Linked DNA regions of Homo sapiens. The protein of the gene in region 1 interacts with the protein of each later gene in a pairwise test. Each region holds a gene or a part of one and is shown on either strand. Other genes may lie near its edges.

What was found. Proteins that work in one complex are often made in the same cells at the same time.
Region 2: the proteins of MIPOL1 (region 1) and USH1C interact in binary tests that used the Homo sapiens proteins (3 or more experiments, as listed by UniProt).

The regions. Positions count from the first base shown.
Region 1 is NC_000014.9:37,494,933-37,501,958, forward strand, and holds part of MIPOL1 (mirror-image polydactyly gene 1 protein), read left to right. Parts: intron 1-4,975; coding exon 4,976-5,206; intron 5,207-7,026.
Region 2 is NC_000011.10:17,520,396-17,527,421, forward strand, and holds part of USH1C (harmonin), read right to left. Parts: intron 6,937-7,026; coding exon 6,828-6,936; intron 6,646-6,827; coding exon 6,621-6,645; intron 6,416-6,620; coding exon 6,358-6,415; intron 6,047-6,357; coding exon 5,952-6,046; intron 4,141-5,951; coding exon 4,056-4,140; intron 3,084-4,055; coding exon 3,024-3,083; intron 2,873-3,023; coding exon 2,816-2,872; intron 2,532-2,815; coding exon 2,389-2,531; intron 1,017-2,388; coding exon 951-1,016; intron 600-950; coding exon 475-599; intron 1-474. UniProt on the Homo sapiens protein: Anchoring/scaffolding protein that is a part of the functional network formed by USH1C, USH1G, CDH23 and MYO7A that mediates mechanotransduction in cochlear hair cells. Required for normal development and maintenance of cochlear hair cell bundles.

The DNA.
Region 1 (7,026 bases):
ATCCAAACATGTCCATCTGAGAGAAAAATCAAAATCAGGTATAAATTTGCCCCCTAAAAATTAAATGATAGAAGACTAGAAAGTGAGGAGTGATTAGGAAATTAAATCAGGATGCTCATAATTTTCATAATGGTGAGACTTTTAAAACTTAATCATTGATTCTTTTTTTTTCTAGGTAATTTTTCTTTTTTTTTTTTTTAATATTTTTTTTATTATACTTTAAGTTTTAGGGTACATGGCACATTGTGCAGGTTAGTTACATATGTATACATGTGCCATGCTGGTGCGCTGCACCCACTAACTCGTCATCTAGCATTAGGTATATCTCCCAATGCTATCCCTCCCCCCTCCCCCCACCCCACCACAGTCCCCAGAGTGTGATGTTCCCCTTCCTGTGTCCATGTGATCTCATTGTTCAATTCCCACCTATGAGTGAGACTATGCGGTGTTTGGTTTTTTGTTCTTGCGATAGTTTACTGAGAATGATGATTTCCAATTTCATCCATGTCCCTACAAAGGACATGAACTCATCCTTTTTTATGGCTGCATAGTATCCCATGGTGTATATGTGCCACATTTTCTTAATCCAGTCTATCATTGTTGGACATTTGGGTTGGTTCCAAGTCTTTGCTATTGTGAATAGTGCCACAATAAACATACGTGTGCATGTGTCTTTATAGCAGCATGATTTATAGTCCTTTGGGTATATACCCAGTAATGGGATGGCTGGGTCAAATGGTATTTCTAGTTCTAGATCCCTGAGGAATCGCCACACTGTCTTCCACAATGGTTGAACTAGTTTACAGTCCCACCAACAGTGTAAAAGTGTTCCTATTTCTCCACATCCTCTCCAGCACCTGTTTCCTAACTTTTTAATGATTGCCATTCTAACTGGTGTGAGATGGTATCTCATTGTGGTTTTGATTTGCATTTCTCTGATGGCCAGTGATGATGAGCATTTTTTCATGTGTTTTTTGGCTGCATAAATGTCTTCTTTTGAGAAGTGTCTGTTCATGTCCTTCGCCCACTTTTTGATGGGGTTGTTTGTTTTTTTCTTGTAAATTTGTTTGAGTTCATTGTAGATTCTGGATATTAGCCCTTTGTCAGATGAGTAGGTTGTGAAAATTTTATCCCATTTTGTAGGTTGCCTGTTCACTCTGATGGTAGTTTCTTTTGCTGTGCAGAAGCTCTTTAATTAGGTATTGTTGGGACGTATTTCAAAATAATAAGAGCTATCTATGACAAACCCACAGCCAATATCATACTGAATGGGCAAAAACTGGAAGCATTCCCTTTGAAAACTGGCACAAGACAGGGATGCCCTCTCTCACCACTCCTATTCAACATAGTGTTGGAAGTTCTGGCCAGGGCAATTAGGCAGAAGAAGGAAATAAAGGGTATTCAATTAGGAAAAGAGGAAGTCAAATTGTCCCTGTTTGCAGACGACATGATTGTATATCTAGAAAACCCCATTGTCTCAGCCCAAAACCTCCTTAAGCTGATAAGCAACTTCAGCAAAGTCTCAGGATACAAAATCAATGTACAAAAATCACAAGCATTCTTATACACCAATAACAGACAAACAGAGAGCCAAATCATGAGTGAACTCCCATTCACAATTGCTTCAAAGAGAATAAAATACCTAGGAATCCAACTTACAAGGGATGTGAAGGACCTCTTCAAGGAGAACTACAAACCACTGCTCAATGAAATAAAAGAGGATACAAACAAATGGAAGAACATTCCATGCTCATGGGTAGGAATAATCAATATCGTGAAAATGGCCATACTGCCCAAGGTAATTTACAGATTCAATGCCATCCCCATCAAGCTACCAATGACTTTCTTCACAGAATTGGAAAAAACTACTTTAAAGTTCGTATGGAACCAAAAAAGAGTCTGCATCGCCAAGTCAATCCTAAGCCAAAAGAACAAAGCTGGAGGCATCACACTACCTGACTTCAAACTATACTACAAGGCTACAGTAACCAAAACAGCATGGTACTGGTACCAAAACAGAGATATAGATCAATGGAACAGAACAGAGCCCTCAGAAATAACACCGCATAGATCTGATCTTTGACAAACCTGAGAAAAACAGGCAATGGGGAAAGGATTCCCTATTTAATAAATGGTGCTGGGAAAACTGGCTAGCCATATGTAGAAAGCTGAAACTGGATCCCTTCCTTACACCTTATACAAAAATCAATTCAAGATGGATTAAAGACTTAAACGGTAGACCTAAAACCATAAAAACCCTAGAAGAAAACCTAGGCATCACCATTCAGGACATAGGCATGGGCAAGGACTTCATGTCTAAAACACCAAAAGCAATGGCAACAAAAGACAAAATTGACAAATGGGATCTAATCATTGATTCTTAATATGTAATTGGTTACGGTATACTGGTTACTGCTTTAGGCATGATAGGCAAATGCTGAATTCCCAAACGAAGCTGTCTCACTGAGTTTTAAATTAGGCCATATATGTAAAGTTAAAATATAAGGGAATGGAGTAGGCTAAGATTTTTTAAACAGTTTACAAAAAGCATTGCCATTAAAGAAACAATGATAAATTGAACTTTATTTAAATTGAGAACTTACCTTCATCAAAAGACAGCATTAAGAGTCAGGCATGGTGGCATATGCCCATAGTCCGAGCTACTCAGCAGGCTGAGGCAGGAGGACTGTTTGAGCCCAGGAGTTCAAGGTCAGCCTGGAAAACATAGTGAGAACTTGTCTCAACCAATCAATAATATACACATACATAAGACAATACGAAGAGAATGAAACATCACTGCATCCATATTACAATAACTAAAGTTAAAAGCATTTGACAGTGCCATTCTGAGGGAGGATATAAAGCAATTGAAACTCATATTTTGCTGATGGGAGTACAAATTGGTACAACTAATTTGGAAGACTATTAGCAGCATCTAAATCTAAATCAGCATCTATTATCATTGTACTAAATCTGAAAATAATGCATACCCTTTGGAGAAATTCTACTTTACACATGAATACCTAGGTCCATCAAAAGACATGTACAGGAATATCCATAGCAACAACTGTGGACAGTTAAATAAGTTACGGCATATGTATATAACAGAATATTTTATAGCAATAAAAAGCAATGAATTATATGCAACAGCAAGGTGAACTTCACTTACCAATTGTTGAGGAAAATAAGCCAGACAAAAAGTTTAAAAATAGGCAATTTACATTTTGATAAAGGTTGGATTAGTACTTACCTTTTGGGGAGGGGAAAAAATGGGAGGGAACACTGGGGGGTCTTCTAGATTTCTGCATTTGTTCTGTATTTTGTTCTTCACATTTTTTCAAGCTGAATACTTTGTATATATGCACTTTGTGTAATTTAAAACGTAATTAACAATTAAAATATAACTAATGTTTTAAATATAAAGAACATAAACAAGTACCTTTTTTAAGGTTTAGCTTTTAGTTTGTTTCTTCTTTTCTTTCTTTCTTTCTTGCATCTTTCATGGAGATAAAGAGGGTGAGCTGAAGAAAATTGGAACTTGGAACAGACAAGAATGCAGAAAGTGAGAGGACACAGAAAAAATAGTAAAATGGGCAAGAGACAGCCTTTAAGCATATGGGTTGGTAGAAAAATCTGAGAAGAAATGAAGTAGGGATAGTTAGATTAATAACAATGTGCAAACCATGAAAAAAGGTATTTTTTGCACTCTACAAATGTGGCACTACACACTATTCTAATTTTCTGTGTAGTAACCAGTTGACCAGCGCTTAGTAACAGTCCGTATTCTTAGGGGTTTGAATCCTGAAGTGGTTTCATTTGGTATGCTGACTGTCCTTGTTTCATATCCATCCTAGTTCTATGGGACGCCTTCTCCAAAATAAGCATACTGTAAAGGCTTATAGATAACTTAAACTAAAAGAGGAAATTTATAATTACTTTGAACAGTTTTAAAGAAAGTATCAGGCTAGATATTAGGACAATGCCAAAGTTCACTAACTAGCTTTTTGCAGGTTTAATAATGATATTGCTTTCCTTCCCATTATCAATCTATATTATATAGTTAAGTTGTTTTACTTCAAATGTCTCCAATCGACATTTCCTTTGTATGCATATACTGAAATGATATTTAATAAAAAAGAACATCTCCTGTGTGGAGTTTAAATTTCTCTTATTAAATATTTATATTTTCAAAATGTCTTTATTTAATTGAGTGAGGTGCTTGGTGCCATTTCAAAATAACCTCAGGTGGTAGGTGTAATGACATATCAAAGATTTGACCTTTAGCATTTTAGGATTCTATTTGTCTGCATTTTCTTCTGCATTCATTTAGTCTTAATTTATATGCTATTTCTCTGTATGACTTAATGAGTAGATGTATTCGTTAAGAGATTCATTAGCCAAAAAAAAATATACACATGTATATATGAATACATTTTATTTCTGTGCAATCTGACTAGTGATTTTAAATTCATTTATATCTCAACTGTGACAAGTAGAAGATCAAGTAGAAAATGCTATGTAGAAGGCTGGTCAGTGTTTGCATAAACCTCATCCATTCTCATTAAGTGCTTGGCAGAATAGACCCTCGATCTCCTAAACCAATGCCCATTCTCTTCTCACTTCTTTCAGCTTATTACATTCTTTTATTTGCCTAGAGATACTTTATTTTCCAGTTCTCTGCTATTCCTTTTAAAGAAAATTGAATGTAATATTTACACTGATATAATTAAATTAACATCTTGCAGCATCTTTTTGTATGCTTTGGTAGCATAATCATTTGTCTGGGTAGCTTTCAGCCTAGAAGCAGAGAAATTATCAATTATAATGTTGTGACATAAAAATTATTTTCATTTGCTCATTTAAGTATTTATTGATTTTTAGAACTAGAGATTCTAAATGGAGGTTTTTGTTAAATAGATCATAGATCACTCAGTTTACATTACTTATCTTTAAATTTTTTTTAATATTTTCTCAGTTTACACAAATCTTTATCTCAAGAAGAAAATCTGAAGGATCAGTTTAACTATACCCTTAGTACATATGAAGAAGCTTTAAAAAACAGAGAGAACATTGTTTCCATCACTCAACAACAAAATGAGGAACTGGCTACTCAACTGCAACAAGCTCTGACAGAGCGAGCAAATATGGAATTACAACTTCAACATGCCAGAGAGGCCTCCCAAGTGGCCAATGAAAAAGTTCAAAAGTAAGTTAAATGATCTTGTAATAATACTTCAAACACATGAAACAAAACAAAACACTTTCTTTTGGGAACTAAACAATATGTAGTTATTGATCATGTTAATAGTTTAGAACAAAAGTAGAATTAACCCAGTGAACTTTTTTAGATTGGATACCATATGCCATATTTGGGGTCAAAAAAGTCATTTTCTTGGGAACCATTGTTACCCTGTAGGGCAAACCATTTTTATTTAATAACTGATCATCAGTTCATGGAGGCCATACTATTTAAATCATTTCACAGTCACAAGTTAATAGGCAAAGTTATTAGCAAGGGGAAGAGGCAGTCAAGTTACCACCTGAACTAATTTAGCTTTACAATAATCCTGCTTGAGTTGAGATCATCTGTGACATTGCAACCTGAGACTTGTAGGTGCATAAAAACCAGTAGGGTGAAATTAATTTTCTTGTGTTGTTCTTCTGAAGTATTCAATACTGCTTTTCACAGTGCATAATTATATATGTTTATTTTGAATGATCTTTGCATTTTTATTAGAATTTAAATAAAGCTGCATAATCTGTCAGTCCTTTTGACAGCTAGCAAAATGTTAACAAACAGCTTACCAGGCAAAGAAGTCACTTGTTAATTTAATGGACTTGAACATTGTAGCAGAATTTTCTGAGACACCTTTAATGTAATAGAACCACTGTAATAGAATACATAGAACACATGTAATAGAATATATTTTAACCTTCTTTATGTATTGTTAACAGCACTACAGCATTCACATATCTAGTCACCTTCAATTTCAAAGATATACCTTTTTCCTTAACAATTTTTATGTCAGTTTTACACTGTGAAGCAGTGCTCACATCAAGGTTTCTTACTTCCCACTACTTCTTATTTGAAAATGTCATCTTGACCATTTCCTCAATATCCCTGAAGTTATATTTTGATTAATAGCCAAAGTTATGTAAGTCAGTAGTTTTAAATTAGACCATTTTAAAACAGTTTAGAAATTGTGCATTTTAATCTTTACTAGCCATGTACCTTGAAACTTTTGATTTATGTAGGTATTATATATATTTGTAAGTTTAAAGATGGGGTTTATATTCAGTCAGAAACTATATGCAGTTATTCACAATGTACGTTAATATTCTAAGAACACTATGATGTATAGGTAGATCTCATTTCATTATAAATCACAATCAGTAACTTTTGACAGGATCTGATTTGGCTCTGTTTGCTTAAAGTCTACAAATACATACAAATTTCAAATTTTTCTTTATATATAATCCATTAATTTCTATACATGACCAAAATTCCCTAAAACAGTGGTTCCCACAGACCAATTCTATTTTCAAAAAATCTTCGGATGTGTTATCAACCTTTTATTTTTTAGATCTCATCAACTATCATCATCATTTCATTTAAAAAAACAATTTTTATACACCAAGAAGTAGAAATAATATCATCTCAGATAATGTTTTAAATTAAATAACTTTACTGAATGGCCAAGATAACCAAATAGGAACAGCTCTAGTCTGCAGCTCCCAGTGTTGATCGACACAGAAGATGGGTGATTTCTGTATTTCCACCTGAGATACCTGGTTCATCTCGTTGGGACTGGTTGGACAGTGCATGCAGCCCACCGAGGGTGAGCCAAAGCAGGGCAGGGTGTCACCTCACCTGGGAAGCACAAGGTGTCGGGGGATTTCTTTTTCCTAGCCAAGGGAAGCCGTGACAGACTGTACCTGGAAAATCGGTACACTCCCACCCAAATACTGTGCTTTTCCCACAGTCTTACCAACCTGCAGACCAGGAGATTCTCTCTCATGCCTGGC
Region 2 (7,026 bases), on another chromosome or scaffold:
AGACACTTAGTAAGCTCCTCCCACAGTTATGAATCAACCTTGGACCACCAGAGCCCTTCTCTGATGTGAGGTCCTTCCCCTCTTTTCTGCTGCTGGCTTCACCCCAGCCCCTGTTCAGAACCAAGTAGGAGGAGGACATGGTACCCAAAACATTAGGACGGTAATCCCATGAGCTAATCCACTTTCACTATGGCCCTTATTCCCTCTTCAGCAGCCTGACAGCCTGCCCATGTCAGTGTTGTGGGGGACCTGGGAGCTGGGTATGTGGAGCTGGCCCGTGAACAAGGGGAGCAGACAGATCCCTCCTACCTCGATGCTGGGGCAGATGGTCTCTGACCCACAGCTGCCCCTCCATGAAGGAACCACAGCCCAGAGCACCAAGGGCTATCCATCTAGGAGGTGGTGGTGAGGGGAGGGAGGGCCAGCATTTCTGACTAGTTCCCTTAGCCTCTCCCCTCGGCTCATGAAACTTACACTTTGGCTTGCGAAGGGGTACTGGGTGTACCTCAGCAGTGATGGTTTTAGGCAAGAGTAGCTGTTCCTTTGAGCCCCAGTCTTCTTCCCATTGCTTCTTAAACTTCTCTTCCTCCTCTACAATCCTAAAATGAGACCCCCATGCCTGTTACTGGAGTCAGAACCCCCATAGGCCCATCTCCTGCATATCGGAGAGCCCCAGCCAGCCTGGGGAGAAGCCTCATGGTTCTAGTCATGATGAATCAAGCAAAGTCCCCGAGCTTGTATTCTAAATTGAGTGTGAACCCCACCTTGGCAATTATACGAGACTATGTTTCAGTTACTATAATATGACAGGCTTTACTACAAATAAAGGAGGACCCACCAGGGGATGAGAGAACCAGGTAAACTGGTTCTGGAGGCAGCCTCTGGTTGGCCACACTCCCCTGAGCACACTGATGTTCATGCACAGACACGCGTGGAGCCGAGGTACTCACTGTTCCATCTCCTTCCGGTATCTCTCATTTTCCTCTGCTGCCTTCTGGGCAATTTCTTTTCTCCTTCTGAAACACAAATGCAGATTGGCATGTTTGGCCCTATGCAAGAGAAATGAACTCTTCCTTACTGTGAATTCTTGATTTGGAGAAAAGTTGGATTTTTCTCCAGGCTCCCTTCCTAGGAGGCCTGGACCAGCTTTGGTTTTGGGGGACGTTATCTAACAAAGTCTGGACGCTGTGCTCTTGCGTGGTTTTGTCTGGCATGGCTGAGCAGAGATGCTGGGCTGTGGGAGGAGGGAAGCAGATCCATGTGAAGGCCACACTCCATGCACCCTCCTCCAAACACTTAGGTAAGGTGACTGATGACAGGCGGGGCCTGGACTGACCCCAGGAGCAAAGCAGGGGCTCCTAGCCAGGTGGAATACTCCCAGCTAACTCTGTGTTGGGGGAGATGGGGACAGCCTTTCCTCTTTCCTTTTCAAAATACATTAATTGATTGATTGATTGAGACAAAGTCTCACTTTGCACCCAGGAGTTCAGTGGTGCGATATCAGCTCACTGCAACCTCTGCCTCCCAGGTTCAAGTGATTCTCATGTCTCAGCCTCCCGAGAAGCTGGGATTACAGTCGCATGCCACTATGCCCAGCTAATTTTTTTTTGTATTTTTAGTAGAGACACAGTTTCACCATGCTGGCCAGGCTGGTCTCGAACTCCTGACCTCAGATGATCTGCCGGCCTCGACCTCCAAAGTGCTGGGATAACAGGCGTGAGTCACTGCGTCCAGCCATGAAATACTTTTAAATGCCTAAAAGGTATTTGGATTTGGATCTTGACAGTAGTTTTTGATTTATGAATTGCTCACCCCATTTATTCTCTTAGGCCATCATTTCAATCCTCCTGGACAAGGGTGAGCTTCATCACTATAGGCAGGGCAGCCCTGTGGGGACTTGCCAGATTGCCTGGGGGTGATCCCAGCTTGGCCACGTGTGACGTTAGACACAAGTGGCTTCACCTCTCTGAGTGTCAGTCTCCACACCTCTAAAATGGGGTTAATACTCTCTACCTCCCAGGGCTATTGTGGGAATTAAGAAACATAAACAAGGCCCTAATACAACACCAGCCTTATGGAGGTACTTGACAAATGTTAGCTGGTAGCTAATCCTAGCTAGCTAGAGCCTACTGCTAGTAGGATGCTTATTTTCCATATTCTTGGAATGTTGGAAGACAGGGGGCTCTGCTCAGCAAGGAGGAAGGAGCCAGGTGGTCTGAGGCCAAGGATGGATACGCTGACCTACCACCAAACTCATCTGGTCTGAGGACTGGCCTCCAGGGAGGAGGAGGAAGTTGGCTGGGGACACAGCGGGCAGGAAGCAAGCTAGGTGGGGTCGTGTGGTGGGGTGGGAGGCGGGACAGGGCATCCAGGGCTGGCTGCACTCACTGCCGCTCCATCTCCTGCTGCTCCTGGAGGATCTTGTTGGACTCCATCGCCAGCCGCTTCTGCATGAGAAGCTCCTGCCGCTGCAGCTCACGCTGCCGCGCCTCTGCCAGCCGCTCCCGGTCTGTCATGAACAGCTCCCGGCCCTCATGGGAGAAAAGAGGCCCCTTGCTCAGCCCCCGGGGAACCTGGGGATCCCCTGACACACCCCTGGGGGCCGAGATGCAGGTGGTCTTCTCAGCACCATCAGGCACTGCGGCTCCCGCAATCCCTGACCCAAACTTCTTGCTGGGCAGAAGTCCTCTCGCTCTGCTCTGTCAGAGCTTCAGGGAAGGAGACCAGCCACCCTGGGAGTGTGTGGCAGAGATCAAAGGTCAGAGGGGCTGGGGATGAAGGTCAAGGGGCTCCCACCAGCTCATTCTGGACTTACAGCTGCAGCTACAATGGAGATGGTCAGGCTGCGGCTACTCTTCAGCACATTTACAGCCTGTGGGGACAGAAGGACAGTGGGCCGAGGCCTGACAGACCACAGCAGTCCAGGCAGAGAGCACAGAAGGCCCCAGGCTCCAGGGTGGTGGGGATGAGAAGTGGGGTGTGGAGATGACAAGGGCCAACAGGTGAAGACCCCCACATCTCACCTCCTTGTGATCCAGGTTAGAGAAGTCGACGCCATTGACTTCGACAATCTGGTCCCCTATCTGGTGGGGAAATGGAGAAAGATTAGTGTGTTTGCGCTATCTGTACACTCGCTCATCTGCAGGACAGGCTCCCCCAGGGGCTCTGGGTCAGATGCTGGATCTTCAAGTGGCAGTACCTCAGCTCCTCCTGATGAATGGAGCAGTTGGAAAGCTCTGGTGGAGCTCTGGGAGGGCTTAAAGCTGACCCTGGCACTCCCCTACTTCATAACTATCTTATCAACTATCAAATATTATACCATTACATGTTCATTTCTTTGGCTAAATTTGATGACATTTGCTTTAAAAATCACAGTTTGCAGATGCGGGAACCTTTGAGCTTCTCATTTAGCACAGGCTGTGTTGAATCGTCATAACAGAATAGCTAACATTCACTGATCACTTACAATGTGCTTGGCACAGCTCTAGTATACATATTAATTACTTTAACCCACACAACAACCTTGGAAGAAAGCCTGTATTATCCCCATCTTACAGGTAAGCAAACAGACATGAAGTAACTTGTCCAAAGAAGAGGTTAAGGGTTCCTGCTTTGGGATTGGACCACCTAGGTTTGAATCCCAGCCCTACCATATGAGGTACACGATTTTGGAAAAATCATATACTTTCTCTGGGTCTCAGTTTCCTCATATGTAAAGTGGGGATAATGGTGGTACTTAACCCTCAGCATTCTTGTGAAGTGTAAAGGGCATGGAACAATGTCTGATGCAAGTGGACACTGAAGGTCCGCTCTTTGATTACCATTACGACATTCCCAAGCTCGTGACCAACAACTATCAGAGCTGGGGAAGGCTGCAGAAGGGTCAAACATCCCCAGTCTGTGAAGCCTTCTCTGCAGGGTGGGTAGGGCTCCTACTCCCTCAGTGTCCACTGAAAGAGGGCCATGTGGAAAGGCACCTGCCCCTGTCACCGCGGGATCACAGTCTGACCCAATTTCCAGTGGGCCCCCACTGGGGCCGGCCCAGCGTCACTCACCTCCAATCCCACCTCAGCAGACAGGGAGCCAGGTTTCACATGGCTGATAAAGATGCCAGGCTTCTGGATGGGGCCGCTGGAAATGCTGCGGGAGGTGGGAAATGTGTGCTCGGGATTCAGGTAACCCATGTCCAGTGCTCAGGATACAGGTCACTCATGAGCTGAGGACTGAAGGCCCTTGACTGCCTACCTCTTCAGCCTCTGTGTCCCTCTCCAGCCTGATTTCTACTGCTACCCTGGGCAACAGCCACAGAAAAATCCTTGTAATTCTTCCTACCCAACCTCTCACCTAATATACCTCATATGCTGTTTCTTCTTTCTTTCTAGCACTTTCCTGTCCATCCATTAAGACTCAAATGCTATCCCTTCTATAAGGTTTTTACCAGATCCTCTTATTTTTTTAAATTTATTTTTTAGAGACAGGGTCTTGCTCTGTCACCCAGGTTGGAGTGCAGTGGTGTGATCATAGCTCTCTGCAACCTCCAACTCCTGGGATCAAGCAATCTTCCCACCTCAGCCTAGCTGCGACTACAGGTGTGCACCACCATGCCTGGCTCAGATCCCTTATTCTATCCCAAGACTAAACTAGCCGCTCTGTTCTCAGTGCTCCTATGACATTTACGGCAAGGATGGTACATGTACTGTTAGTATTCCTTCCTAGATTGGTGGCAGAAGTCACTCATTGATCACAGCACTCTTTCCCACAATCCTGGATACAGCTTTAGAATGCTTTTCAAAGCAGCACTCCAGGGAGCTGCTACTCATTGACTAGAGATGGCACCTATTTGCCATCCTGGACGCAGAATGTAGTCCCGTTCGAGTCCCTATCACCCTATATTATAACTATTTACTTGGTTGGCTTCTAGATTAGGCTGTTGTCTCCCAGAAAGGTGGGACTTTTTATCACTTGTGCTTGGCACAAAACATTGAATAAATGTGAATGAAAGGAAAGAACAGGGATAACTTAAATAATAATAGCTAATATTTACCAACTGCTTACTATTTAGCAGGTACTAAGTTTGGCACTTTACTTTCTCCACAACCACCCTGTGATGTGGGAATTATTATCGCCCATTTATAGAGGGAGAAACTGAGGCTCAAAGTGGTTAAGTAACTGGCCCAAGGTTCCAGAGCTCTTAAGTGGGAAAGCAGGGCTGGAACTGGGATCTGAGTAACGGTGGCACCTGCATGCTTAAGCCCCGTGTGGCCCAGTGTCTGTTCGGAATTCCCTGTCTGCCTCTTAAGGAAGCCAACAAGTTAATAAGTGACAAGAGAGCTGTGACAGAGATGACCAGCCAAACAGGCTCCTTTTGCAGTGACTCAAGGGCCCACAAGGTAACACTGTTCTGCCTCTGGGCCTCAATTTCCTCATCTGTAAATTGGGCTCTGTTAGAGATGACCCTCTGGCCCTAAAGGCCTGTCATGAAGTTCAGAGGGGAAATCAGGCACCAAGAAGTGTCAACACCAAGGCTGGGTGCGGTGCTTCATGCCTCTAATCCCAGGGCTTTGGGAGGCTGAGGTGGGAGGATCACTTGAGCCCAGGAGTTTGAGACCAGCCTGGGCAACATAACAAAACTCCATCTCTACAAAAAAATTAAAAGTTAGCTGGGTATGGCAGTGTGTTCCTGTAGATCCAGCTACTCAGGAGGCTGAGGTGGGAGGATTGCTTGAGCTGGGGAGGTTGAGGCTACAGTGAGCTATGATCATGCCACTGCACTCCAGCCTGGGCAACAGAGTCAGACCCTGTATCTAACAAAAAAAGTATCATCACCCATGGACAGTCACACCCCTGGTGGGCAAGGTTTCCTCGGAAGTGGCAGTGAGGAAGGGGAGGGCAATAGGGGCCTGCTGGGGTGCACTGGCCACGAATGACCCCAGGGCATGCCTGCCACCCACCTGCAGCCAAGGCCTCGGGAGCCTACCAGGCTGATGAAGACCTTCTTCTCCTTGTTTTCCCGATTTCCAGGGGAGCCCAGGCTGCCTCGCACGCCCTGAAAGAGAGATAGAAGCAGAATCACGGAGTGTCCACATGCGTGCAAGCGGCCTCTTGAGCTTGTGGGATCTGCAGGGCGAGCACTGCTGAACTCACGCCAGCCAGATCATCATTCCGTCCCTGGGGATGTGTCTGCACCAGCTGGGCCTGGCCGAGGGCTGCTGCCCCACAGCGGTGTGCTGGCTGCCCTGGGAGCCTGTGTGAAGCCCCTGAGGGTGCATCTCTAGAGCAAGCCCTCCCTTCAGGACCGGCCACCCCTCCTTGAAGATGACCCCACCCAAACCCCATCACAGGAGGTCTGGCCCTTACCCCAGATTCCGACACAAACTGATCCACATACTGCCAAGTGAGGGGCTCATCAGGAGAGCTGATGGGAAGGGAAAATAGATGGGAGGGTGGTTAGCGAGAGACGTTTGAGGAACCAGGCCCCACATCCAGATCCACCATGTCTAGAGCCTCCAGCCTCCACTGGCCCAGAAGCAGGGCTGGCATGGTGGGAGCCGGACCCCAGGGCTGTACCAGGATCCTGGGCCCACAGGGAAGAGTTGGCCTGCAGAGGAGGGGCCTCTCACCTTTTCACGGGGATCAGGCCGATGTCTGCGGGAGAAAGGCACAGGGGTTAGGACAGCTCCCCCGCCCTCCCTCCCTCCCACCGTCATGGAGTACTGACCTGCTCCCCCGCCCTCCCTCCCTCCCACCGTCATGGAGTACTGCCCTGCTCCCCCGCCCTCCCTCCCTCCCACCGTCATGGAGTACTGCCCTGCTCTGGCCTCACTCACGTCTCACTTTGATGGACACAGTTTTCTTGGTTCGAATGAGGTTGATGACCTCCTCATGGGTACAGGAGGAGATGGAATATCCATTGATCCGGACGATCTCGTCCCCTACCTTGACCACAGAGAGAGGCAGGGAGCACCAGGTGGAGGGAGCATCAGGCAGTGGGGCAGACTCACCACCAGATGCTCCCGGACTGCTCTC